Regions from separate parts of the Homo sapiens genome. Here all the other regions are linked to region 2. Evidence: fine-mapped expression QTL. A gene starts in region 2. Each other region holds a variant in brackets. All regions are shown on one strand. Distances are from middle to middle.

Region 1 (8,109 bases), 94 kb before region 2:
GTTCTGAAATCAAAATCATTGCGTTGATCAAAGGTAGGGCCTTTCTAGCACTGTTTGTCAGATGAACTCATTTAAAAGTGGATTTCAGGGAATCTTGACCAAGATTTCAGATCACCACACACAAGTTACGGAGACTGTGTTTACTCAGACAATAAGAAAGTACATCTCTTTCTGTAACCTAAACTCTGCTTCTTATTAAGTTTTTACATGTTCAGTCATGCTTTGAGCATTACTTTATTCCAATAAATTAATTTTATCTGTGACTTAAAAGTCTTAATGAGAAGCTATGTAAGTTACATGTGACAGCTGAAGTAATCTGGCTACCATTCATTCTGAAATCTATATTTAAAGTGGGATATAACATTCTTTTTTTCAAAATTTATTTATTTATTGAGATGGAGTCTCGCTCTGTCACCACACTGGAGTGCAGTGGTGCAATCTCAGCTCACTGCAACCTCCGCCTCCCAGGTTCAAGTGATTCTCCTGCCTCAGCCTCCCGAGTAGCTGGGACTATAGGCGCATGCCACCACACCCAGCTAATTTTTGTATTTTTAGTAGAGACAGGGTTTCACCATGTTGGCCAGGATGGTCTCAATCTCTTGACCTTGTGATCTGCCTGCCTTGGCCTCCCAAAGTGCTGGGATTACAGGTGTGAGCCACTGGGCCTGGCTGAAGTGGGATATAATATTGTAACAATGAAATTTTACTATTACATTTTCATGTGTTCACATATATAGTTGAAAAAAATTTTTTTATTAAGTTTTCTTCTCTTTTTAATTGACACAAAATTATACATATTTCTGGTGTACAATGAGATGTTTGATATACATTGTACAAGGATCAAATCAGGGTAATTAACAAATCCACCACCTCAAACATTAATCATTTCTTTGTAGTAAAAACATTCAAAATCCTCTCTTCTAGCTATCAAGTTATTTTGTAATTTGTGTAATATTCTGGTAAAACGGCCTAAACTGGGGTCATATTTCCTCATCAGCCGCATTCTGCTAATGCCAGATGCCCTGGGAAGATCTTCACTGCCATCTTGGAAGGATGCAGAATGTGGTGATGAGGAAGCCATTCTCCCAGGTACAGCAAAGGCAGAGTCTGTTGGCAACCCACCTGAAGGGCAGTAGACTTCTAAATAGCGAGTTGAGGTCCATGTGGGTGAAGCTAAAACCCAGAACACTTTTACTGGCTAAAAATCATGATGATTCAAAACTCAAACCTTCACATGGATGCACCCAAAGTGAATCAACAAAATTTAAAGTCCTTTGAATAGATCAATCTTCTCTAACTAGAAAACAGACCTCATTTTCTCTCTTTGCCATATCATATTCCCAGTAGGCCTGTGCCAATGCCTCTTTGGGTTTCTTTCACTCCCTTTGCAGCTGTTCTTTTGTTCCTGTCTCTCTTTTGTGGCTCCCCAGGGTGATGTGCAAAAAAGCTCCTTCAACCAGGTTTCCACTGTCTTTTTTTCCTACTTAGGATAATGTTCTCCTGCTATCACCCAGGGAATGACATAGAGGGATCTTTCTCCTTCTATATTCATGCAGCTGAGGCACATCTTCATTCTTTTTGTTAATCTTTTTTTCCCAGTTAAGATACATTTTTGTTATGTCCTCTATGGGACACACCTGGGTGTCCATACTACAGTGTGGAGGACCTTGAGGGTAAAATTATCCACAGCCCAGTGGAGTTTGGACACAAAATCTTACATGACTCGATCAATTTCACTTTGCATTTTGCCAGCCCTGAACCTAGGAATCATTCTGTCTTCTTGTTAGCTTACTCTGGTTTCAAATCTAGGTACAAGTCAAACTCTCTTTCAGCTCCTCTGCTACTTGGTCTCCAGGTTCATTGCCTCTGCTTTGGGCTACCCTGGCTTCCTTGCAGAACTATCTGACCCTCTACTGGGGCACTCAGCCCCTGTGTGGTTTCCAAAAGCTGAGCCTCTGTATTTCCTTTCTATCTATCTAGACCTCTTCACATCCTTGACCTGCCTTGGGGCCACCTCAGACCTGGGGTGGCTGATTAGTTGTCTCCCCACCCAGCTGAGGTCACCATGGCTTTCTCCTATCTCCTGTTTCTGAGGTCAGGAGCTGAAATGACACAATTTCCTTCAGGAGCCCACTCTGGCATCTGCAGTTGCACACATGGCACCTGGCTCTCTCTCCCTCTGGGAATCCTCGCCCCGATCCTGGCAGCAGGGAGAGCCCCATTGGGCCCTCCACCTGCTCACGTGGCAGGCAGCCCACACATCCTGCCTGGAAATGCCCCCACAGTGATGCTTTCCTGATCTGGTTTACATCCACCGATCCTGGGTTTGCTTCTTGGTCCCATCCTCCAAGACAATTCCTAGGAGCTTTGAAGAGAAAGGAAGGTCTATGTATATGAGAGGTGATGCCTGCTCTTAATGCCCTGCTATCAGGCCACATTTGGAGGCACAGGTTTTATCAGTTTTGGCCAGACTGCTGTCCACCCAACATAATCAGCACGTACATGACTGAAGGCAGAGCTCTGCTCTAGGGCAACATGTTTTGGGTCCGAGGTAAATAGCAGATACAGAGGTGCTGAGGGGATCACATGAAGTCATGCTGCTGAAGTTACTGTTGCCCTGTACAAAGTCCTTTTTCATTTTTATAAGGACCCCAAGGCACAGCTTTGTTTTAGTAGTGGCTTATATAATTGACTCCCCTCTTTGCCTTGGCTGCTGGAAAGCTTAGCACCAAACCTGAAGGTCACCTAGGGCATAGAATAAACCTGAATGAATTTTTATAATAATCTTAATCACTGGTCCATTTTATATTCTTACCTTTCATTTTTCACTTCTACCCCCAACCCATCTACCTCTAATGTATATTTCCTTGCCAGCCACCTTAAGCCCTTCCTAAATCAAGGAATCGGCAAACATAAAATAAGGTAAACAAACATAAAAATGGGGTTTTATGGAAAACTGAAACAGATCTCTTTCACACCGTTGCTTGGAAGATAAATTTCTAGAGAGCAATAACTACTAAATATTACAATGCATATATTCATGACACAGAAATATCAATTCCAGAAATTTATCCTACAGTCATACTCATATAAGTGTGCAATATATGTTTGATTGCAGCTTGTTTATAATAGAAAAAAGAAAAAGAAATAAGGTAAGTGTACAGGAATGGCTAAACACAGCATGTTGCATG[T/C]ATACAAGGCAACACTATTCGGCCATTCCGAAATGCAAGATTAATATACATGTCCTAACATCAAGGATGCCTTCAATGTATTAAGTAAAACACAAAGACATTTGTGATTAGGGGTACAAACAAAAATTGTCATCCTTAGCATAGAGGCTTTCTCATAATTCAAGGCAGTATTAAGTAACTAACAGATATGAGAAAGCAAAATTGGAGAAGCTGAGGGAGCTATATTCTCTGAATTAGCACAAGTACAGAGCAAGAGTGTGGGGAAGGCAGGTAGAGCCGAGGAAAGATGAGGGGCTGGCCCCCAAGAGAAAGGCTTTGGCAGTTGAGTATTGTATGTTGGGAATCTTGTGATGTTTTGTCTTCACGTGGTGAGTTTTCTTTTCACTCTACCCCCAAAACCCTCAGTAAAACCTACCTTATTTTCCAATACTTTTGCAGCTGGATTTATTTTGGAGGGAACTGATAAAGTACTACATGTGACCTAAAGGCCAGAAAGGGCCAAGGAGAGAGAGACTGCCCAGAGTGACCAGCCCCATTCGGGTCACCAACCGATAATTAGGTCCCATGCAGAATTAGTTCTGGACATATTGGGAATGGAATGTTGAAGAATAGGGAAAGAGTGGGGGAAAAAGAACAAAAAGCCAGATCAACCCTATGTGAAAGGATGTTTTGGCTTAGTAGATACTAAGGTTTCTTTTCATACCTAGATAACAGAGATTTATGAAAAAGGTGAAAGGATCACAGGAGAGAAGATAAGATGTCAGAGTGTCCACAATTAAACATGTGACAGATATATGAAGTACTCGTTCTGACTACATTAGTTGTTACAGGCATATCAGCATTATCTAAGAAAAGAAAAAAGACGTTTTCTTCATTCAACATTCCCCTCACTGCCCACTGGACCTCTATGCAACTCGGCTTTTTGCTCTCACACAGAACTGCCCTGACTGTTTCTATGAGCGGCTCTCTCTCTTCTGTAACTGAGCACCTCTTTTGGAGCCACTGCTTTTATGTACTGTGTGACCAGCCCAGTGAGGAACTACATGGAGCAGGCCTCATGGATGGGCTTCTGGGGCTCTCAGATCCCTGGAATGTTATGCAAACTATTGTGTACATACATTTTCTGGAGCAAGGGCTCTGGCTGAACTATCAATGGGAAGACTCCACTCCAGATGTCAAGAACCTTGGATTTAGAAGTCTGATGTGGAACTCCCCTAAGAAAAATCCTATTATTGAAAACTTTTGTTACCTCTATCATATTTAGATATGTATATACATGTTTATTTCTCAAGGTAGGTGTTGCACACGGACTTTCCTTAATTTAATATGATGTTGTAATAACCTGGGGCTTTATCAGTCCTATTTATGTTTCAACAGTACAGTCATTCTGAGGGGCTTTTGTTTAGGTTGCTGACTCTACTTGTTAGCCCAGAATTTACTTCCTCAACCAGACTGCGGCTCTTTAGGACATGGACCACATGTTTCTGTGTTTTTGTATTTCTAAGGTCTAGCACAAAGCTTGGCAAACATCTGGTACTTAACAAATAATAAGAGCTCACAATAACTGGGTATTCAGAGTATGTCACACACTGAGGTGTTTGTGATTTCATTCCTTATTTGATAGGTGAGGAAAACGAAGTCTTAAATGCAGATCCATTTTGGGAAGACTGTAAACCCTCGATGTCAACCACTCTATATAAATCTTGTTAAGGGAATGAATGCTGAATGATGGTTAACACTTTCCATTATGTAGGTAAAGACACTAGGTATCAGCATGGGGGCAGGGCAGCTGCATCAGGAACTCAGGTTACCTGTCCTCCATTTAAGTGTGTTTTTCCTTAGAGTTTTCTAATTTTGAAATGGTCTTTATTCCTTATTAGAAATGAAAGTGAGGCCAGGCGCAGTGGCTCACGCCTGTAATCCCAGCACTCTGAGAGGCTGAGGCGGGCAGATCACCTGAGATCAGGAGTTTGAGACCAGCCTGACCAACATGGAGAAACCCTGTCTCTACTAAAAATACAAAATTAGTCAGGTTTGGTGGTGCATGCCTGTAATCCCAGCTACTCGGGAGGCTGAGGCAGGAGAACCGCTTGAACCCGGGAGGTGGAGGTTGAGGTGAGCCGAGATTGCACCATTGCACTCCAGCCTGGGCAACAAGAGCCAAACTCCATCTCAAAAAAAAAAAAAAAAAAAAAAAGAAATGAAAGTGAAATCCTGTATACTAATTGAGCCTATTTCACCTGTCTCTGATTCCAGAACTCTTGTGTATAACAATCTTGCTCATTAGTGGATCAAACTTCTTACTGACACAGAGATGTCACCACGAACATCTATAAGGAAAGCAAAATCTTTCCTCTTCTGCGCACCTTCTCTGTTGGGGATGCCAAACTCAAATGCCTGCAGAGACTAGTAGATCCTGGAAGTGACAAGTGGGCTGGGTGTGAATGTGAACTGGGGCAGCCATGTGGGAGCCCTAATCCATTATGAAGGGAATAGCCACTCCTTGGCCCAGGGTGACTAGATCTTTAGAATTTTAAGAGAAGCCAGAAACACAGATTTTATGTAGAATCTCTTGAGTTTGAGATGTTGATGATTCATTCCTTTTTTTTTTTTTTGAGATGGAGTCTCACTCTGTTGCCAGGCTGGAGTGCAGTGGCGCAATCTTGGCTCACTGCAATCTCTGCCTCCCGGGTTCAAGTGATTCCCCTGCCTCAGCCTCCTGAATAGCTGGGACTACAGGTGCGCACCACCAGGCTCGGCTAATTTTTTGTATTTTAGTAGAGACAGGGTTTCACCATATTGGCCAGGATCGTCTCAATCTCCTGACCTCATGATCTGCCCGCCCCAGCCTCCCAAAGTGCTGGGATTACAGGTGTGAGCCACCACGCCTGGCCTCAAATATTTTTTAAAACCCCAGCACAGGCCAAATAAAACACATCTATGGTTAGGTGGGCCTGTGGGCCACCAGTTTGCAAACTTAGTTTCATCTGGGGAACATCCAGAACCATCTTCTGCCCAGTGTGGCATACTATAGGCATGAAGGAGAGGTAAGATTAGTATTTTAAGTTTTTGTTTGTTAGCATCTCTATAACAAGGTTTAGTGAGGGAAGTGGTGGACAGAGATGTTAAAATTGTTTTTAGACTATCTGTGGATTTCCAATATTCCATCCATGGCCCCAGACTGAAAGTCAAGAGCAGTTGTATGTGTATACCTTCCTTAAGCCACCATTCAATCTTTGTGCTGCACAAAGAATCAGCCTGGTGAGCACTGACACACGACTTCAGCTTTCTTCAAACTGATTGTTAGTGTGCAGCACTCTGTTGAACTTGCAGAAAAATCTACAGCCTGCCTTTTCCCTCTTACATTACATATACTTCTGATGGGCAGCAAGTTGGCCTCCAGCAATAAACAATGAATGACTGCTTCCTAGGCATCTCTGGATAGTCACTGTCCAGTGAGGAAGAAAAGCTTCTCAGAATAATGGAACCTCTCCTAGTAGGGGGACTCTACCTCCCCTTTTACTCAAGCAAGGCTGTGCAAAACATCGAGTAAACTTTCATCCATTCAGGGATCAACTAATCCAATCCATGAGCATCTTGGGCTCTTGGCCTGCTTTTTGGACCACACAACCTCAGAGGCTTTGATGGAGGAAGCCATGAAAAGCCTAACTTAGTAAGACGAGTCTTCTGAGACCTTTAAGAATTTGTTCCTACTCCAGATGTAAGTGTGTTTGGAGATAACTTCCTTGAGTCTTACTTTCTTTAAATACATTAGAGAAATGGTTGTAGGATATTAATGTACTTTGCAAGGCTTTGGGAAATACTAAACACAGTGTTCTCTTCAAAGTGAAGGTGTTACATACATGTTTAGTTTGAAGAGAGATTTATGCTTGTGCATGCACAAAATTTCCCTCTCACTATACCAGCAAATTGAGAATTGTCCAACCTTTTTTCTTAAACAACAAAGGAAAATATTACATCAAATACCTAAGCCAACAGTAACAGAGTACCGAAGTAGGATAATATCAAATATTATGTTCAGGGTGAAATTTAGTTCTTCATATGCTGCCAGGCATGCTCTTTTTAATTTTACCAGAAGAACACATTACTTGACTACTATGGTATTTAGAATTCCTATACTGGAATATTCCCAAGGCTTTTTTGGAAAATATCTAGGGCTGTTTCTAAAACAGCACTTTCTAATTTTGTTAACACCTTCCTTTCCTTTAAGTTAACTTGATAGATTGTGCCTTTCTAAGCTTCAGATTACCTCAGACTTTTCAATACCTAGTTCCAACATGTTATGAGGACAACTCAAAGATCATGAAACCTGGTTCCGCTGTCCAAACATTTACTTCTGTGCTTCATTCAAACTGAATTCATTCACTGCTGTGCTAGAATAACTCTCTATCTCCCGCCTCCCCAGCTTCTCTCACCTGCCTGCCTGCTTCCTGTTGCATCCTCAGTGACACCCCTGGCCTTGTCACACAGCACAGCAGTTCATGTCTTTCCCTGCTCCCATCTTCCCTATACCATGTCTGAACCCTTGAGCCATAACATGGATGGACAGCAGCAAATGGCTCTGTCTTGATGGCAGGGATGGGGAAGGAACAGCAAGGGAGCTGGTGATTCTGCTTAGACCCACAGTGGGCCCCGGGATGACTGACAGTGAGGGAGGCTGTCCCAACACTACTGGAGGGGAAGCTGACCTGCTTTGCAGCTCTTCCCAAGGCAGTCTGGGCCCCATCTGCAGAGAGTCTGACTTAATTATTTTCAGAGTCCCAGATGACCTAATGCACAGTCCTAGGATCTACTAGATGGCCACAGTAGCAAGGGGTAGTAGGACAAGCAAGGGCTTTCACATCAGAAGACCTGGGTTTGAACCTTGGTCTACTAATGGCTAGCTGTAACATCTGGG
Region 2 (8,109 bases):
CCATATACCCCCTCTAGTTCCCAAGAGTCCAAAGGGAATTCTGGACTAATTCCTGTTAACACAATGGGGTTTGCACACACTACACCCCTCCCCTCCATCCTCAACTCCAAAGATACTGACTCAGCAACTGGCCTGGAGCCAGAGCAGCATATTCCAAATTCAGAGTGTGCAACAATGCTCGGTTCAATTATGACATAATGGCTGCAAAGCTGTTCCTGAAAGCCAAGAAAACCTGAATAATGTGGTTGGGTTATATCATACATGAGGCCTTAATAGAGTTTAAAAACCAATTTGAAAATTCCTTCATTCCATAAAGATAGCATTAAGATGAGGGCAAAATCATTCTAGTTCAAGGGATGGGAAAAAAGTATATAAGGAATTAGGCAGGCTCCTTTCCACATTATCCTTCTTAACCAACATGACCCATTCCCTTTGACGATATCTCTTATACTTAATACTGACCTAGAAAGAAGGCAATTTCATTAAACATCTTAGTCTTATTGTACCCAGCTAGTAATGCAAGTTTCCCTGCTATTTAAAAAGCACATAATCCCATTTCCAAAAACAACTGTTTGCAATTCAAAAACCATCCACCCAGGCAATGTCTTCTCTTTGTCCCTAAAATTCCACCCACTTTCAATTTATCTTGTCAAAGAGATAAAGTTATCTTTGTGCCCCCACAAAACCTAAAAGATGTTTCATTCATTGCTTGCCATTTTGTAGCAAGTGACTTTGGACATTGAGTTGCTAAATCCAGCATTTCCCTGGACTTGTGATAACAGTAAGACCCAGGCCTGTAGAAATACAGTCTTCAATCTGAATGTTGGGAGCCATCCACTCTTGCTTGACATTAGGCTGTGGCATCCCTCAGTTATGTGGGATTCTACAATCTTTTGAGTCCTATTCTGTTTTTTAATAGCTATCATTGATAGAATTTTTTTAATGTTTTGGAACTGGAAGTGACTTTGGAGATTCCCCTTGCTTTATGTATAAGGAAACTAATGCTTAAAGTCTTTCATACTATATTTTTTAGTTCATTTCTCTGTATTTTCTCCTGGAACAATGGCATATTTTTATATATAATGAGATCAACACAGAATTTCAGAACTAGAAGGCATCTCCAAGTTCAATCCTCTTTCTTCCCAAAAAATCGCAAAACACTTTTCATATTAATCCTCAGAGTATACCAATTAACAGACACTTCATTTTGTATAAGGCTTAATTTAAGGATGGAGAGAATGAGGAAAGTCTCAGTTTCAGACAGTAGAATTCTTTTACCATAAGAATTAGGCTCTGTTCTCTAAATCTAAAAAGATTCACATCCATTTCATTTTTGAACCTGGAGAAATGGCTGAATTTACTGAGTTTTCTATTAAATAATAGAATCATTTTTCTTCACTGGATGGAAGGACTATGTGTTTTAAGAAACAAAGAGTTTTAAAAAAATCAAATAATTCAACGTCATGTCCTTCCCTCCTGACTAAAAATCATTTCCCCATTATTTCATGATTAACATGAAAAAGCACTGGAACAATGAGAGGAAATTCATTTGTTTCCAGTTGTAACAATGCGATTTCTGCTGCAATCCCATTGGCAACAGAAGGCAGCAGCATATACCACCACTGTCCTATTACAACACAAAAAGCTGTCAACTTTGAACTCCTTTGAAATGTTGTTAGTAAAGTAGAAAAGACAAGTGTGGATTTCCTTCAATATTATTTGGGCAACCTAGACTTAAAATAGTGACCAGACTTAAGATAGTGACTCTACAGAGGTCCTCTATCCTTAAGGCAAGACCAAACCAAGATACTGGTGCCCTACATAAGCTAATAATTTGGCACACTTTCAAACAGATACTCTTCAAATATTTGCTAAACAGGTGTTTGGGTGAGGCGTTGCATGGCAGGCCTGGAGAAAGTGTGGAGACAGGACTGGTGGAAGCTTTTAGCTTGCATATTCTAAACAACAAAGGACCCACAACTGACCAGGCCAGATCTCCTTGGAAGGCAGTTTGAGGAGCATCTAATGTATTCCCAAATACACTCTTCCCTGCTCCAAGCTGTTTATTAAAGCATTACTTCTGTCTCTAGTAACAACCTGAAAGGAGGTGACTGCTTTATATTCTTTTCAGTATCTTGTTACATTCTCAATGTTTTATACTTTTTATAGATCCAACCTCCCTTCAGGGACACTATCTTTTCATTTCTATAGCTTGTACTGAGCATTTGCAATGTGCCAGGTGCTGTGCCATGTATTAGAAATATAAAAGTGATTAAGATATTGTCACTGCCCTTAAGAAACTCACACCTTGAGCAGGAGAAAGACTCACAAACAAATAACACAATACCACAGTGATGAAGGCTACAACAGTAAAAAGGCTGTTACTAGATATTACTGGTGAAATGGTCTGAAATCCTTGGAGATGGATACTTTCTAAAAATAGTAGGTAGGTTCTTTCAGTTTGCCTCCATATCTAGGAACTTTAACTTTGGTAAGGATTGGAATAAAAAGAGAGTAACATTTTCATGTTTCCTGTTCTCCGTGGCTGTACTGGGATGGGAAGTTAGGGATGTGGAATCATGTCTAAGATAAACTTAGCCAAAACTTTTCATTTGCATATTCTTCCCCAAATGATTTTGTCCCTAGAATTTGTTATGCAATACTAGGGGAAGGATAGAGGAAGCTCACCTAGTCCCTGCTGTGTAGCTACACATACCTGATCCAGATGATTTCTCCCCTTCGAAATAATTGCAAACAAGATTAAAACTGTATTCAGGAAGTATTCCAGCTGGCTTTTGGCTTCCTCTGATGTACAGTCCTTGAATAAAGCAGTAGCAAAAATTAGATTTAAATAAGGAACATAAAAACACCTCGCTACTTGTACCAGATCACCTCAAGGTCCTGCTATGTTTGAAACCCCAAGGCCTAGCATTAGAGTAACTGAATACATCAGCCAGCTAGAGTATATACAAGTTATGAAATAAAAAAACTTTAATAATAAAAAATAACCTATTTTAAAGGGATTTCTCATAGTGCCTCTGAGTACTTTAGAGCCAGGCATCTGGAACAAAATAGAAACACAGTCCAATCAACTCCCAAGTTGGAAAAATCCTCATTTCTATTACTTACCTGCCAACAGTCCATCTAAATAAAACCACACAGCCACATATTCCTCTGATGAAGGAGACAAAAAAATATTGATCCTTCCTTGGCATGTGGCTACTGCTGCCAGAGCAGGAGGGAAGAAAGACAATCTGAGGATCCTGCCTGTTTAAAGCACCAGCCCCACCAATCTTAATTTTCACAACAGGGTCTTTCTGGTTCCAGGCAATTCCTCAGCAGAGCAGGACGCAGGTTATTGGGCTACGATATTTCACACAGAACCATGATTAGTTCTGCTTTGCCCCAGTATTATCATAATTATCCAATATTTCCAGGGTGTATCTTTTTTCCCCGTGTTTTAAATCTTTCTAATTACCTATAATGCACCCCAATGTATACAGCTCCAAATATTGGTAGAGAGCTTCACATGCATTTTTATAAGCTAGTCCTCAGAATATGACCAAATGAGAAGACTGCGACCTCTAATAGACACCTCAACTTGTTCAGCATTGTGCACCAAGGCATAGCTCTAGTGGCTGCTTAAACAAGACAATGTATACTAATTCTGGGAAATGCGCTAGAAAGTATTGGGATATAACAGATCTTAGACACCATCTCTGTCCTTGAGGAATTGAGAATCTTGGGGTCAAGCTAAGGCCATACTATGGATTTTTTTTTTAAGGGCACTAAAATATAAAGTACCACATATACACTATTTATTAATAAACAAGAATAAAGATCACCCAAGCAAAACATTCCCTGTGAAAGACAGCCTTAGAAACAGTCACAAGCCTAACTCACAATGACATTTTAGTGGGGACTTTTCTACCCTTGGACTTATTAAAAAACTGTATGAGCTGCTATTTGTCAGAAGTGAATATCTGTTGAGAATGTACAGTTTCTGATTTATTCTCTCATTGTTCAGTACCCAGAGGGCTGCTTTTGCCCAATAAGGCTGAGAGGAGATCCAGACAGCTCATCCAGAGAGCCCCGGCACTCACAATGTTCCCTGCTGCACCTTTCAACCTTTTCACCCCAATTAAAGGTCAACATGGCTGCTCAAAAATATTTATTTAAAAAGGCAGTCAGCTCAGCGGGCTCCCAAGTGTGATTACACTACCACTTCATAGAATTCAATTAAACCCGGGACGGGGCATCGGCGAATCACTGGAGGAGTATGAAGTTGAGATGTTTTCTGCTTTCTCGAGATGTTTTCTGCTTTCTCTTAAAAAAAAAAAAAGCTTCCTTTTCCCGCCCGTCATTTATTTACTTCCCAGAGCGCTATCACAGACACACACACACGCGTTTATAATCTCCCCCAAGTAGTTCATGGATTTATGGCTCCCGGTTTAATTAAATTCCGTATAACGACTATCCAAATGGGCAGCACGCGGCACAGCGAACCCCCGCCAGCCTGCGCGTCAGCTCAGAGGCGGAGACCCGCGAGCGCTCACCCTCGGCGCGGGACTAAGGGAACCCACCTGAGCCTCACGCCGCCAACGCCTCTGCTTCCGCCCTGCGCCGGGCACTTCCGCCCGCACCCACCAGGCGCCGGCCCCAGGCCCCGCACTTCCGCCCCACGCCGGCAGCACTGCCGCTGGGCGTTCTATCTCAGGTGGTGTCCCGTCTACGCTCTCAAGGGTGGCCGCGCCTGAACCTTTACTCGTGAAGAGTGACACACAAACCAAGGCCAAACTAAAAAACAAAATACGGAAAAGTGACCCCGCATGTTTGGGAACCATTTAATAAGAGGCCTCAGGTGCGGGAGCCAACTTTTTGAGGCTGCGGAGTCCGAGCCATTTTAACCGCTCTGCATGCATCCATTCTTTCGTTAATTTAATATTTACTGCCTCCTCCACTAGGTCTTGGCTGAACTAGGTTATGGGGAATGCGATGAGCAAAACTGGCAGCCGTACCCTCCCGCAAACTGAAAATCGTGTGAGAAAGCAGATATTAGGAAATTATCCCTTATTAAATAGGCCATGGGTTTATTCAGCTAAGTGCTTTGCAGGGAAGGAATATGAGAAAAGACCTGAGTGGGATCTCGTTGAAGAGGTAGCTTTGGGGCTGGGATCTGAAGGGCGTGGGTTGGGGACAGAGCTCTGCAGGCTGGGGGAAGGGTCTGGTGGAGGATGTGCAGTATGGGTTGTATGCGGAAGACTGACGAGTATGGCTGAGACTTAGAGGGAATGGGGAAGAGAGGTGGAAACAGGCTAGAGAGGGTAAGCGAGAGTCTGGCCATGCAGGGCCTTTCAGGTTTGTGCTAAGGGTAGCCGGGGGGCATTTCTGTTTTATGTGGGAAGGGGATTGAACTGATTGCTTTTCCCTTCTGAAAGGACCCCTTAGCTTTGGGAAGTAGATGGGAAGGGTTTAGGATAGGCAAGAGTAGAACAAGCAGGGAGGTGAGGAAGCTACTGAGCATTCCAGGTTCTAGGTGTGGTGGCTTGAATGGTGGTACAGTAAATAATGAGAAAATGATGGATAATAATTATAGTAATACTCAAAGCTAACATTTATTGATTGCTCACCAAAAGCTTTATACTCATTAGTCTGTTTAATCCTGAGAACAATGCAATTAAGTATTACTAGTACCATTTTACAGATGAAGTAATGGAGGTTTAATAACTTGCTCAAGTTCTCACAGTTACAAAACGGTAGATTTGGAATTCCATCTCATGCTGTCTGACGCCTTAAGCTTACCACTATAAATTCAATGTGTACTCAGTGGTTTTAAAAAAGATACAAAGCAAACCAAGGTCAGGAATGAATTCTTTAAACAAACCACACTGATTATGTGATGTCGCTAGAGGCCACATTAAGATAGTAGAATTTACAAGTTCTTTGTCACTTCAGCATTTTCTGATAGGCTAAAGAGGGAATTTTGTGACTGTCAACAGACTACCTATAGTTATTTTTGAGTTGATGCACTCTGATAAGACTTAGTTTTTCTGGAAAAAAAAAAGTCAATTGATAAAGCACAGTCCACCTAACAGTTGCTGATAGGATACCTTTAAAGAAGGAATCTGGGATCTAGTTATAAACACCTTGGTGGGGCATGAGTATCTTAGATATTGTGGAGTGACAGAAAAGCTTACTAGAAATGTAACTCCAGATCAGCTTCCAAATCTTATTTATTGTTGGAAAACAAAGGTTTATAAAATCACTTGGACTTATGAAACCTGATTTCACCCACTGAAGGAAAAGAATGGATTCAACCAAGGCCAACAATGAAGGCTTTTAGCACTGGTTATGAGTAAATTTCTCTAAGGAGCCAAAAGTTCATAAATTTTCAGAATTTGAGTTTAATCAGTAAGAATTTCTTGGGTTTGTAAGTGATAGCGGAAGACCTGGAGCCTCCACATTATTGTTTTGGTTAGAGGGAGTCCTGTCGAATGTCTAGGAATCCCTGAGAACTCACTATGGTTGATACCCTCTTTGGGAGTGCCTGGCTGACTGCCATGAGCTCAGAGGACCAGTTTAGCCTCTAGGTCCAGGGCCTACAGTGCTGGGGAAGGGAGCTCTGCTTGGGAAAATATCTGGAGTCTGGCCAGGAAAAATGTCTACAAAACCAAAAAAGAAAAAAAAGGACACTCATAGCAAAATTAATGAACATTTATTAAATGATCACAAAATTGAACACTGTGTCAGCTTCATTAATGGATGGGTTTAGCATTTATAACAACTTCATTACATTGGAAAACAATTTTTAGATGAGATGCTCTCACCAAGTGAGAGTTCCTGAGTATATGTGATGAGTGTAGAGAAATTATATTTTAACTTTTAGCCACATAATTTCACAAGCAAAATTTTAAAAATCCTTTTATAGAAAAATTATTAAGTGTGAAATGTATATACCTTTTAATATGTTTCAAATGATGTGAGTGTTTTAAGAATATGAAGGCCTTAAGACAGTTCTGGATCTTGTACAATTTTGTTCATTCAAAACATGCTTGTCGCCGGGCATGATGGCTCACACCTGTAATCCCACCATTTGGGAGGCCGAGGTGGGCGGATTACCTGAGGTCAGGAGTTCGAGACCATCCTGGCCAATGTGGTGAAACCCTTTCTCTACTAAAAATACAAAAATTAGCTGGGTGTGGTAGTGGGCACCTGTAGTCCCAGCTATTCAGGAGGTTGAGGCTGGAGAATTGCTTGAACCCGGGAAGCGGAGGTTGCAGTGAGCTGAGACTCCATCCTGGGCAACAAGAGCGAAACTACGTCTCCAAAACAAAACAAAACAAAAAAATGAACAAACAAACAAAATAACATGCTTGTCATTAGGCATTTGACTTGCATGTCCTCCTCTAGGTCTGGACTGCAATTCTAGGCTATGCGCTACCAATCTGGATAGGACTGATGCAGGGATATCTGTGTGCTAGAATGTTCAGAACTCAACTGGGTTGAGTTTTTCAATGGTCATCTCTGAGGCAGAAGCCTGGTGTAGAGAAAGCCTGCTGTCACAGTCTGATCTGTAACTCCTGACATAACTCCAAAGGTACTTTAGAGGACACATGACCTATTCTTCCAGAGATGACCTGGAGCCAGGCTTCCCTCTTAAGGCCTCTGAAAGGTGGCCTGTGTGGGTGTGGAGGGAGGCATCTTCACTCCTGTCCTCTTAGCTTTGCCTCTGGCAGGAATAAAGAAGTGGGCTTTGATGTCAATATGTTCCCTTCAGAATGCCTTAGAAAAATAATGTATGTCTTGGCAAGTAGTGACTGTCATGCCAGCTCTGTTTTACAGTAATTTGGCTGTGTGTTGCCACTCAAAGAACGTGCAATTTGAACTTTGACTAGGAGGGACAGTCTCAGTAATTGCCACAATTAGGTGATGCGATTGTTTTGGTGGAGGTATTCAGAAACTTGGTAGGTTTTCTTTCCTGGTGTATTTCTGGACTTTATAGTGAGCATATTTATCTCATGAGTCGCCCATCCTCAGGTCTGCAAACTCTGCAGGAAATGAACTCTAAGGGCCAGATATTGTGTTATGTTTAAGGTCATGGAGAAAAAC
Region 3 (8,109 bases), 120 kb before region 2:
CAGGCGCCCACCACCACGCCCAGCTAATTTTTGTATTTTTAGTAGAGACAGGGTTTCACCATGTTGATCAGGCTGGTCTCGAACTCCTGACCACAGGTGATCTGATCACCTTGGCCTCCCAAAGTGCTGGGACTACAGATGTGAGCCATCATGCCCAGCCCTCAGTAGGGTTTTGAGTTTTGGTACAACTGTAATCTAGGCCCACTACCCTGTAAGAAGGATACACAAGTTACAAAACAACCAGCTTCGACAGCAAACTTGCATTTTTTCTAGCTAGACTCTTTTTATTAGGGGGAGGGGAGGGAGAATGAGCAAGAGACAGAGGAAACCTTACATTTTAAAAATCTCTCTTTCAAAATTTATAAAGGTAGTATATTCTCATAATAATGCAAATTCACTCATTAAAGGGTGGTATAAATGGAGGCTTAACATTTCCATTTTATACACTATACCTAGTCCTGGTAACCTCTTGTAACAATTCTTGATTTTAGTTCTTCTGGTGGTGCTTTTATCTCCTCTTGATTTATCAATTTTAAGTAGTATCTATTAACTTCCTGTCCTTTACGAAATTTAAAATTAATAGAAACTTAGCTTTTTACCATTGTTCCCTCCTTTCCCCACGTTTTGTTATTTTTATTTTTATTTTTTTACTTTTAAGGCCTTTGCTATCTTTATAACTTTAAATAATATGCCTAAACGTTTATTTCTTAATCCATCAACTTGGGACAGTATCTTAACCACCCCCAATTACTTCAGTTGGGGAAACTGGCCCTATTTCACTTCCCTCCATTGTTCCTCCTTCTTCTATTACCCAAATCCTCTTAGCCATATAATTAATTTTGCATTCTTAAGGTTTATAACGCGAATTGCCTATAATCTTAATTGTCTTCCACAGATTCTCTAGAAATAAATTCCAGAAAATGAAAACAAAGAACATTTCAATATTATGATTCTATAGATATTATTTGCTTCAGAACCAAGTAGTGTAATTGTACCCTGAGAGAAGGAGATGCAAAGTCTCTTAATGGTGTTGCTTGAGGGAAAATGTTCCAAACCTCAAGGTCAAGTCTGTTTTTATTTTAGTATATTCCACAAGCTGCTCAAAATCAAAACATTTTCATTTGTTTTATAGTTGCACTACAGATTTCTTATGAAGGTTTTTGTTTTTTCCAGGCAGTTCTAATTGCCTTTTTTTCTTGTTGACAAAAACAGCATATTATTTCACTTTAATTTCATTGAACTGTTTAATCAAATCATGGCAGAAAATCCATGTTCTTCTTGAAGACATGCTTCCTATTGCTTTCAAACTTCATGTTGTAATTCACACATACTGTTTTCTAAACCTGCCACTACCCTAGGATTTTTAAAAATTGTATTCTGTGAGATTAGGATGAATATTTGCTTGAATAACATTCTTTCTCTCTTTTGGGTTCCCTGTTTTCTTTGTTAGAGAACATTCTCCAAAAAAAAAATCACAATCTTTGATTCCAAAGGATTTCCAAAAATCTTTATTCTGCTTTTATATTGATGAATGGCTCAATGGTACGTAAGTTCTAGGTTCAAAAAATTTCCCTCAGAAATTTGAAGTAATTCTTTTAATGTCATATTGCTATACAATATGGAAGTAAAATGCCACTCTGATTCTTACTTCTTTGTAAGTAACTTTTTCTCCCTCTGAATACTATTAGCATCACATCTTTATCTTTTGTGTTCAAAATTTCATAAGGAGTTGCCTTTTAATCTGAAGGCTCTTGCCTTTCCTCCACTCTGGGAAATGTTCTATTATCTCTTTAATTGCTTGTTCCTCCCCCTTTGTCTGCTCTTTCTGACGCTCTCATTAATCAGATGTTGGACTTCTAGGATTGGATGTCTATGCCCATTAAATCTTCTCTTGTATATTCTACCTTTTTATCTTTTCGTTCAATGGTCTAGGAGATTTACTTGACTTTATTTTAAACCTAGTAAATGAATTTTTAATATAATCCATCATATTTTTAATTTCCACTCTTTTATTACTTACTCCCATTTATGTAGTAACCTCTTCTAATTTTTATTTTTATTTCTATTTTTATTTTTTTGAGACGGAGTCTCACCCTGTCGCCCAGGCGCAATCTCCGCTCACTGCAAGCTCCGCCTCCTGGCTTCACGCCATTCTCCTGCCTCACCCTCCCGAGTAGCTGGGACTACAGGCGCCTGCCAACACGCCCGGCTAATTTTTTTTTTTTTTTTTTTTTTTGTATTTTCAGTAGAGACGAGGTTTCACCGTGTTAGCCAGGATGGTCTTGATCTCCTGACCTCGTGATCCGCCCGCCTCGGCCTCCCAAAGTGCTGAGATTACAGGCGTGAGCCACCGTGCCCGGCCTAACCTCTTCTAATTTTATGGATACAATTTTTTTTTTTTTGAGACAGGGTCTCGTTCTGTCTTTGAGACTGGAGTGCAGCGGCATGGCCATGGGTCACTGCAGCCTCCAACTCCTGCATTCAAGCAATCCCTCTGCCTCAGCTTCCTGGATAGGTAGGACTGCAGGTATGTGCCACCATGCCCAGCTAATTTTTAAATTTTTTTGTAGAGAGGGGTCTCCCTATGTTGCCCAGGCTGGTCTCAAACTTCTGCACTCAAGTGATTCTCCCACTTCAGCCTCCTGAATTGCTGGGATTACAGGCGTGACCCACCATGCCTGGCCCCAGTTTCTTTTTTTTTTTTTTTTTAAGTTTAATAAATAGAGCGCACTCATGCATTTACAACTCAGAATTTTAAAAAAAGTTTACATTTTGTCATTTGTACTTCAGATGAATTTTCTTATTAAAAGAAATAAGGCCACAGAGGTAAACTTAAGTCTCCTGTTTCCCAATGCCTACCCTCCTTCTTCTCCTTTCCTCTTTCTCTTTCCTAGAGAAATCCTGCCTTCCTTTCCCTTCCCAGAGGCAACTGGCATTATAATTTTTGTGTTTTTCAGTACATTTTAATATTTTTACTACACATAGGCATCTATAAACAGCATATAGTATCATTTTATGCATATTAAAATTGTACCATAACATCCATACTCTAAAGTCACTTTGTTCGCCCAACGCTGTTTCTGAAATCTATCCATGTTGATACATATGGATCTAATTTATTCATTTTCAACTGTTATGTGGGTTCCACCATATTCATTCATTCAACAAATATTTATGTGCATCAGCAATGTTCCAAGAAATGTTCCGGTGGCTGGGAGCACAGCAATGAAGGAAACAAAATATGAACATACTCTAATTTATTTTCATCTCTCCATTAAGAGACATTAGGTCTCATCATGACAAAAAAAATGCTTCAGTGAACATCCTTGTACAGGGCTTCTGTTGCAAGTGCTTCTTTGGGAAATATTTGTTGTGGTAAAACTGCTTGGTTATGGACCACATTTCAAATTTTAGCAGGTATTGCCAACTTGCTTTCCAAAGTGGTGTACCACACTACATGCCCAGTTTCGTTCATCCGGCCCAATATTTGGACAGTCATGTTTCTTTATTTTTGCCATTATGAAGGGCGAGAAAGGGTAGTTTTTGTTTCAGCCAGCATTTCTCCTAATTGTTAGTAAGGTCAGCATCTCTTATGTTTATTGGTTCTTTAAATCCGCTCCTCTGTGTATTGCCTGAGGGTATCCTTTGCAACCCATTTCTGTAGTAAGTTGTCCGTCTTTTTTATACTGATTTGTAAGGATTCTCTGACTATATAGTCTGAAACGTTTTTTTCTGCTTTATGTGTTGAAAAAATATTTTTCCAGTTCAGAGTTTGTCTTTTAGCTTTACTCATAGAGGCTTTTGCATAAAATAGTTTTACTTCTTAGTGTAATCTTTCCTTTATGAATTGTCCTTTTTTGTGTACCGACTGAGAAATAATCTCTTCCCCACAGTCATAAAGATATTTGCCTGCATTTCTTTCTAATAATTTTAAAGTTTTATTTTTCACTCAGGCCCTTAATACATTTAAAATTATCCATTTGTATGGGATGAGACATTAATCTACCTTTCTTTTTCATGAAGAGAACTAAATCACTTATTAAATAATCCTTTCTTTTCCCACTTATTTTTAATGCCTTGTCTACTCTATGCCAAATTCCCACATACATTTTGGAGATTGTTTTCGGAGTTTCTACACTGTTAAAATGAATAGGTCTCAGATTTTTGTCAGAACCTGTTTTTAAACAGTTTTCTTCTAGTCCTCAAATTGTCCATCTGTACCGCAACCTAACGATTTCTTTTGTCTTCAGTTACCCTGAAGATATTTTTAAACCAAGCCTCTTTGTTTATAAATGAAGAAACAAAGATGCAGAGATCTTATATTTCCCATTCAGGTTTACACAGCAAGACAATTAGAAAGCTTGAACTAGGTCCAGGCATGGTGGCTCACGCCTGTAATCTCAGCACTTTGGGAGGCCAAGGAATGCAAATAGCTTGAGCCCAGGAGTTCGAGACCAGCCTGAAAATACAGTGAAACTCTGTCTCTACTAAAAATACAAAAAAACAAAATTAGCCAGGTGTGGTGGCGGGCACCTGTAATCCCAGCTACTTGGGAGGCTGAGGCAGGGGAATCACTTGAACCTGGGAGGTGGAAGTTGCAGTGAGCCAAGATTGC[G/A]CCACTGTACTCCAGCCTGGGCAACAGAGTGAGGCTCTGTCTCCAAAAAAAAAAAAAAAAAAAAAAAAAACCAAAAAAACAACAACAAAAACAAAAAAACAAACAATAACAAAAAAAAACCCAGAAAGCTTGAACTCAGATCTTAACCTGCATCCCAATCCACTTTCCACTAATGCCTTCCTCACTAAAAGTTTCCATTTTCTGTGAACATTTTACTTTCATCAGTAGTTGAACGAAACTGCCCATTTCACCAAATCTTTGTCATGACTAGGTTTTATCATTTAAAACATCTCTTTGAATTGGCAGGTTAAGAACGGTGTTTCTTTCTTTTTAAAATATGGGGTCTCACTATGTTGCCCAGGTTGGCCTGGACCTGCTGGCTTCAGGTGATCCTCCCACCTCAGCCTCCTGAGTAGCTGGGACTATGGGCACATGCCATGGTGCCACTGTGCCCGGCTAAGAATGGTATTCTTTTATTAGAGTTTTTTTTGACATAAACATTTTAGTAAATATACATTAAGTAATAAATATTCCTTTAAAACTTTATCACGTTTCTTGGCCATAGTATTTAGTCTTTTTTATTTGTCTATTCATGTCTTTTCCTTACTTTCCTATTGAGTTATATTTTTTGCCTTTTTATTAGTGGTGCTTAAGAATTCCATGTATATATTAAAGATAGTAACCTTTTGTCACATATGTTTAACTTTAAAAACATTCAGTTATTTGTCTTCTAATTTTGTTTACAGGCTATTTGACACATAAGCTTTAGAAGTTAAACCTATCAATCATTTTTTCTGCAGTCTCTTCCATCATTCCTGTACTTCCAAGTGCAGATAAATACTCATCCTAGATTTTTCTATAGCTTTATGATTTCATAAAACCTTCAATCCATTTGTAATTTATTTTGGTGTATTGCATGATGTTAAAAAGTAACTTTCATTTTCTCCCAATGGTTTCTCAATTGGATCAATCTTATTTTTGATAACTTCTTTATTTATATGTCATCTTTATCTGTAGTAAATTCTTATACATACTTGAATCTGTTCCTAGATTCTGCTTCATTAATCTATTTTTGTAAAACATCACATTTAAAAATTATTATAGACTTATAATTCATTTTTAATAACTGGTAGAGGAAGATTCCCAACATTACTGTGCTCAGATTTTACTCATCATTTCTGTTGTTTATCCTTCCTGATATTTTTAAAATCATCATCTAAAATTGTTACCTTGTTAAAAATGTATTTAAGCTGAACAATAATATAGAAAGAATTGTGTCTTGCAAATATTTAGTTTTCTCATCTAGGAACATAGTATTTATTCAAATTTTCTTTTATTTTGCTCAGTATTTTAGTTTTCCAAATATAGATTTATTACTGAATATTTTATACTCTTGTAAATGGGACATTTCCCATTACATGTTATAACTACTTATTGCCCATACACGGGAAAGCTATTGATTTTAGTTTTATTTTGTATACAGATTTTTATTATCAAATTTTTATTTATTACTTTGTGTTGATTCTTTTAAGTTTCTAGGTAAACAGAAATATAACATACAAATCATGGCTATCTTTCTCCTCCTTTTCTCTGCTTTCTGTTTCTTAGATGGGCAGTAGCTTCCAGAATAATACTGAATGATCATGATGACAGGGAATATCTTTGTCTTGTTTTACATTTTAATAAGGTTACTTGATTTTAATAAGGTGCTTCCAGTTTACCATTAACCGTCCTCTATATTGTTTCTCTGGCCAAGACAAGTGATTATATTAAGATGTATATTAGTTTAATAAATGGTCTAGCTTGCTTACTTTTTCTTGAATTAAAGCTTTTTCTTTACAGAGTTCAATTTTCTTAAACTTCTAAAAGCCCACTGCTTTTGTATTCTGTATTTTTTCTTTTTCATGATCTAATTCTTCATATTCCATTCTAGGTCCCTAGTTACTTCTGATCTAATCTGCTCATCACTGCCTTTAAATTAATTAATCTTTGAATCCAAAAAGGGTGTCAGGACTGGGAAGTATATAGAAGACAGATCAAGGGTACTGAATATTCTTCTAGTTAATAATCAAATGTGACTTTTTTTTTAAAAATGCCACTTGTTTACTTGAATAGAAATTGATTGATTCCTGGCACACAGAGGAGACAAGTTGACAACGGCCATTTGACTGATTTTTAAGTGTAATGTGCAATTAAAACAAACCTAACTCCACAATGATGGGGCTATTTTAAAGCAACATAGGATCCAAGTGAATGAGCTACCACTAATGACCAACAGTGGAACAATCTAAGTAACGAAATAAGTGAAGTATTATATTATTGCCAAAGTATAAAATGAATACCCATTAGTCCACACTGCTTTAAATAAATGATTGAATAAATAAAGGGGAAGGGGGAGAAAAGACAAATCTCTTGTGCAGATGAAATCCAAATAATTTATGTGGACACTGACCAACACTGACCATAAGGAAGTGGAGCGTAACTCCCTATTCCTTGAGTATAGGCCATCTCTTCCAAAGGCTATAGTATGGAAAGGGGGAAGGAATAATTTTACTATGAAGAAACCTGACAAACGCTACCTCAGCCAGGTGATCAAGGTCAACATCAACAGTGATAGGGCATGTTGGTAGTATGTTTCCTTGATATGATGTGATGAAAAATAGCCCTTTACTTCTATGGGCTTCCTCCCTTAAATCCATAATCCCAGTCTATTTATGTGAAAAACAGCAAACAAATCCCAAACAGTCCCAAAAAAGGGACTTTTTACAAAATAGCTGACCAGCATTTCTCAAAACTATCTAGGTCATCAAAAACAAAGAAAGTCTGAGAAACTATCCCAGCCAAGAGGAGTCCAAGGAGGCAATGAAAACTAAATGTATCATAGGCTCCTGGATGGGATCCTGAAACACAAAAAGAATGTTAGGTAAAATCTAAGTAAATATGAATGATGTATGGACTTTAGCTAATATCATAATAATGCATCAATCTTGGTCCTTTGTTCTGACAAATATACCACACTAATGTAAGACATTAATAATAGGGGAAAGAAGGTGCAAGGAATAGGGAAAATCCCTGTAATATCTTAGCAATTTTTTCCTGTCACTACAAAACTGTTCTAAAAAAGAGTTTATTTAGAAAATAATCACACCTTAAATGATCACGGCCAATAATTTTTGAATGTTCTTAAAGCCGTAATTACTATACCTCCATGGAAAACAACTCAGTAACTAATAGACAGTAAGCATTGCTTGGTATTCCGACCAGCAGCACTTCCTCTACTAATTACCAATGTACCTTTGTCTCCTAGGTTATTAGTTAGTTATAGTTCCACCGAAGGCACTCAGTTATGCTCTAAGAGCTCCTCTGAGAAAACCGCAAGAAGAAATGGGCATAAATTGCAGCAGGAGGGGTTTGAGTTAGAGTTTTAGAATGCTATGAAGTCAAGCTGTGTGATATTCCCTGCTAATTATCTTTCCAACGGTCCATACAACGGT
Region 4 (8,109 bases), 220 kb before region 2:
TTTGGGGGCAGACCTCACTGTGTAATTGTGATAGGGTGGAGGTCCCTTTGGTAGTGCGAGGTTTTCTTCAGTGTTTCCTGACTCAGTCTGGATAATGATTCTCAAATTGTCTGGTTTCGTCTGTTGAATACACGCGGATGTTTCCACAGCCCCTTCTAGTCCTGAGTCCCATGACTTAAGTTTAGCCACAAGTACTAGTTAAAAGTGTCCACTGTGACCAGAGGGACACAAATGTCTGACTGTGCTGAATGTGTTTCTCTGGCTTCCTAATGCAGTGGTTGAGAGTGATCTTCAGATGACCTGTTTTTTTATCTAGTTTCACAAACAGTCCCAGATCACTTGTTTTTCTCTTCTGATTTTCTCTCCATTGTCCACATTTAGGCCAAGGAGCCTCCCTCTCACACTGCCCTTTAGCGAGCAGTGTGACTGTGACCCTGGCAGTTAGTTCATTCTCTTCCTAGGACTGGGGTCATGACCCAGCCTTCCTCTTCACTGCCAGCTTTCACTCCCTTGTTACGCTGCCTCTTCCAACCAGCAGATGCCAGGAAGGGACTCAACCCAAGCTCTTTCTGGGATCATAGGGTTTTCACAGAATTTTCCTATGAACTGTTTTCCCAGCTACTGAATCAGATCATTTCTCTTTAAAAAATTTTTGTCTTGCTAAGAGGAAAATTGTTATGAAATTTGAACTCGGAAAAAAAAAATCAAGATCTGCAAACATTCATATTATGTCATAAAAGAAATAGTGAGCCTGGGTTCTATCCCGAGACATGTTGCATTTCATTACCAGGAAAAGTAATGCGTATTATTACAATCCTTCTGGGAGGGGTCCTTCCCTGGAGAAAGAAGGGCGTGGGTGCTAGAGGTGAATGCTTTGGGTCACTCAGGCAGACCTTATACCAGAAATCCCAGAGGGGACCTGAAGCTGGGCCCTTACCGGACCTTACAGCTGGGGAACACTGGGGACCCCACTGGGAGAAACCGACAGGGGCAGGGTCTGGAAACGCAGTGCTGCTCTGACATGTGGGGAGTACACACCAGCACGTGTTGGTCTCTGACACACGGGACACTTTCACTCTCACATAGGAAGGCAGAAAAGCAGCATAAGACCCATCAAGAGGAAGCAGGGTGAAAGGAAAGGGGGCAAACATTTATTGAATGTTCACTCATGCTTGAGTTGTCACATCAAACATTACCTTACAGCTCACAATACTGCATTATTAGTATTGTCCTTGTTTTGTAGATGGGATAACAGGCCCACAGGTTGTCATTTATTCACTTGTTCATTCCTTCACCAACCATTCACTGGGAGATTTAGTTTTGCCAGGCGCTACTGAGCAAGGCATCAAGAATACCAAGATGAGACAGCCAGTTCTTTTCTTGAGGAACTCAGTGTGATCACAGTTCTATTATCCTTGATGACTATGCCTATTCTGCTATCCCAGGGAGCTGTCAAAAAAAAAAATAACATAGCCAGTTTACTAATGAAAACGGTGCTATTAATTGTTGAAATGAATGGGAACAATTCCAACTGTCGGATAATCCCCAAATCCCTATTTAAAATCTCTGTTGTTTCTAATGTTCTTCAAATTAATGGCAAATGTAATAAACATTGTTTTCATGGTGAGGTTTAGAAAATGCTTTCTTGTATATTAGCTGATTTGCACCTCTCAGCGTATGAAGATGGACTTAGGAGCAGGAACAGCTCCAGCTCTTGCTCAATCTGCCTTCCTCCCACTATCGCATCGTAAGCTCTCAGATAAGGCAGAAAGCCACAGCCCTGGTAGAATGACCTTTCCTAAACTGGCTGTTTCAGGATGCACTTTCCCTGACATCAGGGAGGTAGTTAAGTGTTCTGATTTAAAACTCTCCTTTGGGGGGATAGTCACCTTTAGGTAAGCTAACACACCACCCAGCAAGTAGGTGAAAGCAGTTTGGACCCCAGTGATGCAATGTGTTACTGTATCTAGGAAGTGTTGAAAATGACCCAGAGGGTATGCAAGTACATCCAAGTTATCCTGATGGGGGTAGGGTGGGGATGCTGTGAATAACAGGAATTATTGGAACTGGTGATTCAGCTTTGATTGGAAAGGAAATAAAATAAATGATTTTTTAATGATAGAGAATTCAATTATAGTCATGGGTTATGTCCCAAATTTATACTTTCCCACATAGATGGGTCTTCTCCATAGATAGACTTCACGTAGAAAGAATAAACAGCACATTGTTTTTGCCTTTGAACTAGGTCTGTGAATGGAAAACCCTTGATAAGAGAAGTAGTTAATGACACTAAGTTGCTGTCACTTAGTGATGTAAGTCTAAAAAAGCTAACATTCCTGCATCTCAGTTTCCTTATCTGTAAATTGGAACTAAAGATCCTGTTACAAAGAGTTGATAGTGGAATAAATGAGGCCATGTAAGATGGTCATACCAATATAGTAGGTTGTAAAGAAATAGGAATTTAAAACTAATTAACTTAAAATTTTTTGATCACGGGAATTAAGATGGGAAGTAAGGTGAGGCTGTCCTGTTATAAAATGGCAGGGCTGTTAATTATTGTTGGCTTAAGTAAGTCTATTAGCAAAAATAGTGCCAGTCAGAATTAACATTTCTCCTGGGTTAAGTCAACTGAGTGGTTAAACAAGGAAGGCCATTGAGAACACTGGAAACACCACATTTTACTCATTTTATTAATAAATATTAATATTAATTAAACAAACTTTTTTTTTTTTTTTGAGAGACGGAGTCTCACTGTTGCCCAGGCTAGAGTGCAATACAGCCTCTGCCTTCCAAGTTCAAGCAATTCTCCTGTCTCAGCCTCCCAAGTAGCTGGGATTACAGGTGTGCGCCACCATTCCCAGCTAATTTTTGTATTTCTAGTAGAGATGGGGTTTCACCATATTGGCCAGGCTGGTCTCTAACTCCTGACTTCAAGTGATCTGCCCACCTTGGCCTCCCAAAGTGCTGGGACTACAGGCATGAGCCACTGTGCCTGGCCCACAACAAACATTGATTAATCACTTACTAAGTTGCATGCTGTGCACTGGCAATACAATGGTGAGCGAAAAGAAATTTCTGCCTGACCCTGGTTGGGGTGGGGGTGGGGGGCATCAATCAAATATTCACACCGATGTGTAGAACAACAACTGTGGTCAACTGCTGTTATAAAAGGCAGGCACCACACGGCACGCTTCAGGAGCACTGGTCTTTTATGGGAAATGGTCATTAGGAAAGAATTGTCTGGTAGGAGGCTGAGTTTCAAAGGTGAAGTTCTCGCCTCCGCAGTCATGACAACAGCTCCAAGGTTGGGGACGTTAAGGGGGAGGTTCAAATTCTTTGACTTCTCGTTAAGACGATTTGAGCTTATTAAAAACTGGCCATGATCTCTCAGAGCATTAGCTAAGGGATACAGCTGGTGATCCTGATAGGGCATTTTGCTCTAACCTTGGAAGAATCCGTCTAGACTCCAGCCAGAACTTGATTGCAGACAGAACAGTGGAGAAAGAGGGGCCACAGTCCTGCAGCCTCAGTCTGTTTCCCTGGTGTTCCTGAGTGGTCCTGGGTACTCACAGGCACCCGAACTCAAGGGTCCAGGTCAGTCCAGAGTGCTTTCATGGAAACGGCAGGCTATGTGTGCCGAGAATGTCGCTCAGCCAATTGCATGGAATTCAGAGTTCCCCTGAGGTTCCCTGAGACTTGGTTCTCCCTGCTCTGATGGGATTTGGGATAGAAAGTGGGA[G/A]TGCCTGGTTAATTTGGAGTTTGAGGGCCTAGTGCTTTCAAAGAGAGATCCCCACCTGGGAGAATCATAACTCACATCCTCTTCCACCCTATACCTACCCGGTTTGGACAAGTAAAAGCAACACTTAAATAAGTGGCAAAATCTGCTTTTTTCCTGTTGCAAATTGAATATTATATGAGGGACAATGACTATTCCCAGCTTGATGCTTTGGAAAGTGCGTTTGGATTTTTCCATTTTAGACAAATGTCAGCTTTCCCCCGAAGTGGCCTCCATCGTGCTTGTTTGTTCCAAATCATTTTTCAATGCTGTGATTTCCCTTCTCTTTGCTTTAAACACTCAGTCACGTGGCTTGTCTCCACCGTGTGGAGGTGCCGGGTGCCTGGTTGGGTCTCTCTGCATTTCTGGCAGGAAGAAGGCATTTGTGAATACTGTCAGTACTTGTGACAGGTTGGTCACATTGGAACCTTTGCCCCTGTTGTTTAAAACCGAAGAAGACTGTGACTGTGGAGGTGCCCCGTGTGCTCAGCGCTCAAATGGGAAATGGAGAAGATTCCCGGAACGTGTTTGGCAGTCACTTCTGAGTTTTCCATTGAGACCCGAACATGAAGAAAATCTTCTGGCTCCTGCCAGTTGGCCAACCTCTGTCTGCCTTCCCCAGCTCACAGGGCTGCACACTGCATTGGGGCTGTCCTCCGCTGCTGGAAAATCACGCCGGTGCTCTTCACAAACACTGAACACTGGCCCTCTGCTTGATCCATGGAACCAAGATGACAGGATCTCCTGCCTGTTCTTGATAACAGCTGTAGTTTTATTTCAGATTTTCATTTAAACAAATAGTTTAAGGCCTCAGCTGGGAAAGAGGATTGAAGTATCCCCAATGGACAAAGCCTCTGGCACGCCAGAAAGACATGTGACTAAGCCTGAGTGACTTTCCTTCCTTCCCCTCCCAGGTTGCTGGGAGAAATAACTATGGGTTTTTGACAACTCTTTCCCAAAATGAATAGTGGAAGGCTGGGAAACACTGAATTATGAAATAAAGCAAGGCAGTTCATTTTGTCATCCTTGGCACCTGAATCCTAAACTACGGTAATGAGATCAGCCCCTTAACGGAGTACTCCAGGGTACCTTGCTCTTAGGCAATTTGTTTTTCTGTGTGTGCTCTTCAACAGACTCTGCAGGAAGTGGCTGACTTGATGCAAATGACTTTTTTGTTTTGTTTTGTTTGAGACAGAGTCTCACTCTTGCCCAGGCTGTAGTGCTGTGGCACGATCTCAGCTCACTGCAATCTTCACCTCCTAGGCTCAAGAGATTCTCCTGCCTCAGCCTCCTGTAATCCCGGGATTACAGGTGTGTGCCACCACACCTGGCTAGTTTTTGTATTTTCAGTAGAGACGGGGTTTCACCATGTTGGCCAGGCTGGTCTTGAACTTCTGACCTGAAGTGATCCACCTGCTTCCGCCTCCCAAAGTGCTGGGATGACAGGCGTGAGCCACCGCGCCCAGCCTGATTTTGGAGGGTTATAGTTGGGAAACTATTTAGTGCGCAGATATTGTCTCTGTGGTAAACGAGGAAACTGACAGGATTCCAAAAGCCTGCTGTTTGAAGGGGCTCATTCAGTTCCAAAAAGAGATGGGAGAGGCAGGAAACGTGAACATATGTGCTGCCTGCCCTCCATTGGTTTGTTTAATAACAAATTCACCCTGTCTGGGCTTGTGACCCCCCTCTCATGTTTGGAAGCGCTACTGCGGGGTTGTAGAGACAAATGAGTCATTTTCTGAGCTCTAATCCTGACCCCAGAGGGGCATGTGGCCACTTCTCCCTGACTTTTCCCGGGGGTGACTTGCTTCCGACACCTGCCGCCTTACTGTTTTTCCTCCTCAAGCAAGCTTGTTGCAGGCACTTCTTCCTTACTTGGTGCTGAACTTAGCCACAAGGAGCTGTCATCACGAGTGTGGGAGAGGGAGGAGAGGGGATCACAGGGGTTTCAGAGGGCTCACTTTGAGACTTGCTGATACTGACAACAGAGTTGACCTGGCCCAGGATTCTTCTAATGCTGCGTGTGACTGTGTGTCTGTGCCATAGTTTTTCAGTGTGTATTCATGCATGATGTATGTGTGTGGGGTGTTGGGGGTGGGGGGAGGGCAAGAGCGTTATTTTCTGGGTCAGAATAACCTTTTAAAATGGTAAGTTTTCCGCTAGGAGAGGAAACCCATTTTGCTCATCTGTCTAGATGTTTTTCTTCACCTGGGCCATGGAGGGCTTTGTTTCACAAGCTTTTCTCCTGTTTCGTCGTTCAGGTGGCAGAGATCGTTGCTCCGCCCTGTGACACACAGCCCACCCTCCATGTCCCACGTTGGGATGGATTACAGAGGATGTGCCCTCCTAGTGGCCCCCGCCAGCCACCAGAGTGAAGTTGATGCTTGGGTGCTATTGTGTCGGAAATTGGTGGGTTCTTGGTCTCACTGCCTTCAAGAATGAAGCCACGGACCCTCGCGGTGAGTGTTACAGTTCTTAAAGATGGTGTGTCTGGAGTTTGTTCCTTCTGATGTTCGGACGTGTTCAGAGTTTCTTCTTTCTGGTGGGTTCGTGGTCTCGCTGGCTTCCGGACTGAAGCTGCAGACTTTCGCGGCAAATGGTTATAGCTCTTAAGGCTGCGCTCTTGGAGTTGTTCATTCCTCCCGGTGGGTTCGTGGTCTGGCTGGCCTCAGAAGTGAAGCTGCAGATCTTCGTGTTGGGTGTTACAGCTCATAAAGGCAGTACAGACCCAAAAAGCGAGCAGCAGCGAGATTTATTACAAAGAGCAAAAGAAAAAAAACCTCCGCGGCAGGAAAGAGGACCTCACCTGATTGCCACTACTGGTTCGGGCAGCCTGCTTTTATTCCCTTATATGGCCCCACCCACATCCTGCTGATTGGTCCATTTTACAGAGAGCTGTTTGGTCTGTTTTACAGAGAGCTGATTGGTCTGTTTTGACGGGGTGCTGATTGGTGTGCTTACAATCCCTGAGCCAGACACAAAAGTTCTCCAAGTCCCCACTAGATTAGCTAGACACAGAGCACTGATTGGTGCATTTACAAACCTTTAGCGAGACACAGAGTGCTGATTGGTGCATTTACAATCCTCTAGCTAGACATAAAAGATCTCCAAGTCCCCACCTGACTCAGGAGCCCAGCTGGCTTTGCCTAGTGGTTGCGGTGCCAGGGCTGCTGGGGGAGCTGCCCGCCAGTACCACACCGTGCGCCTGCACTCCTCAGGCCTTGGGTGGTTGATGGGACCTGGTGCCTCCTACCAGGGGGCGGCACCCGTCCGGGAGGCTCAGGCTGAGCGGGAGCCTAGTGCAGGGGCCGGGGGGGGGGGGGGGGGCGGGGGGTAGGGCATGGCTGCTTACAGGTCCCCAGCCCTGCCCGGCTGGGTGGCAGTGGAGGCCCGTCGAGAATTTGAGCATGGCACGGGCAGGCCGGCTGTGCTGGGGGACCTGGCGCCCCCCTCTGCAGCTGCTGGCCCAGGTGCTAAGCCCCTCACTGCCCCCGGGCTGGGGGCGCAGGCCGGCTGCTCGGAGTGCGGGGGCCTGCCGAGCCCACGCCCACCCGGAACTCACGCTGGCCTGCAAGTGTGCGCCCAACCCTGGTTCCCACCGGCGCCTCTCCCTCCACACCTCCCCACAAGCAGAGGGAGCCAGCTCCAGCCTCGGCCAGCCCAGAGTGGAGCTCCCACAGTGCAGCGGCAGGCTGAAGGGCTCCTCAAGCGCGGCCAGAGTGGGCGCGGAGGTCGAGGAGGCGCCAAGAGCGAGCGAGGGCTGCCAGCACGCTGTCACCTCTCACTATGAACAATTGGCAGGACAGTCATGGTCTGGACCTAAGGAAGGTTTGCTCAGGGCTGACCTACCCACGAGCAGCTGCTCCTGGCAGTCTGAGCGCCTTTCATATTTCCTGTATTAACCTTGTGGCGCACAAAGACAGCATCGAGAACAAGCTAATGAGAATCATCCCTCTCATCATGGAACCCGCATCCCCTGCCTCAAACCAAGCCATGTGCACACGCACACTTGATGATAGCAGAATCGAGGCATCTGTTGACATTTGTCTTCTTTTTGTTTCTAGAGTGTGGTGGGATGCCTCCATCACTGTAGCACTGTCAGATGGGCGACAGCCTTATCGGCCGCCTCCAATCTCAGCAGGATGTGGGTTTTCTTTTTTAACGGGATGCTCTGAAGCCCTTTTGTCCGTGACCAAAAGCATCATTCTTGGCACTGAGCCTGAGGCCTCTTCTCTGACCTCTGCTTCCCTTCCCCTATCTACAATTACTGCACAGTCAGCCCATTGCCTTACTGTACTACTCTGATCATGTTTGATTTCATATACTTAACATCT

Which allele goes with the higher level. Positions count from the first base shown, and alleles are read on the strand shown. Sizes are in standard deviations (SD) of each study's normalised expression. Not every link is listed here.
As copies of T replace C in region 1, the expression in hypothalamus of the gene that starts at base 4,635 in region 2 goes up (small effect, 0.37 SD a copy in GTEx).

Evidence for each region. PIP is the estimated chance that this variant, and not a neighbour inherited with it, causes the effect.
Region 1: its variant is the best candidate, but not a certain one, in a credible set for the expression of C5orf63 in hypothalamus (GTEx, PIP 0.51).
Region 3: its variant is the best candidate, but not a certain one, in a credible set for the expression of C5orf63 in esophagus muscle (GTEx, PIP 0.85).
Region 4: its variant is the best candidate, but not a certain one, in a credible set for the expression of C5orf63 in whole blood (TOPMed, PIP 0.83).

The regions. Positions count from the first base shown.
Region 1 is chr5:126,974,584-126,982,692 of GRCh38, forward strand. The region is part of intron 1 of MARCHF3 (membrane associated ring-CH-type finger 3); the gene reads right to left. Among named protein-coding and RNA genes, the nearest start is that of MARCHF3, 52 kb to the right of the region's middle. The variant T/C (reference allele first, on the strand shown) is at 3,192.
Region 2 is chr5:127,068,868-127,076,976 of GRCh38, forward strand. It overlaps C5orf63 (chromosome 5 open reading frame 63), which reads right to left and starts at 4,635. Exons shown (of 5, transcript NM_001164478.2): 1 at 4,584-4,635; 2 at 2,717-2,818. RefSeq lists a silencer at 4,492-4,711 and an enhancer at 7,917-8,109.
Region 3 is chr5:126,951,987-126,960,095 of GRCh38, forward strand. The region is part of intron 1 of MARCHF3 (membrane associated ring-CH-type finger 3); the gene reads right to left. Among named protein-coding and RNA genes, the nearest start is that of MARCHF3, 75 kb to the right of the region's middle. The variant G/A (reference allele first, on the strand shown) is at 4,616.
Region 4 is chr5:126,847,526-126,855,634 of GRCh38, forward strand. No RefSeq gene overlaps it. Among named protein-coding and RNA genes, the nearest start is that of LMNB1, 74 kb to the left of the region's middle. RefSeq lists an enhancer at 1-638. The variant G/A (reference allele first, on the strand shown) is at 3,740.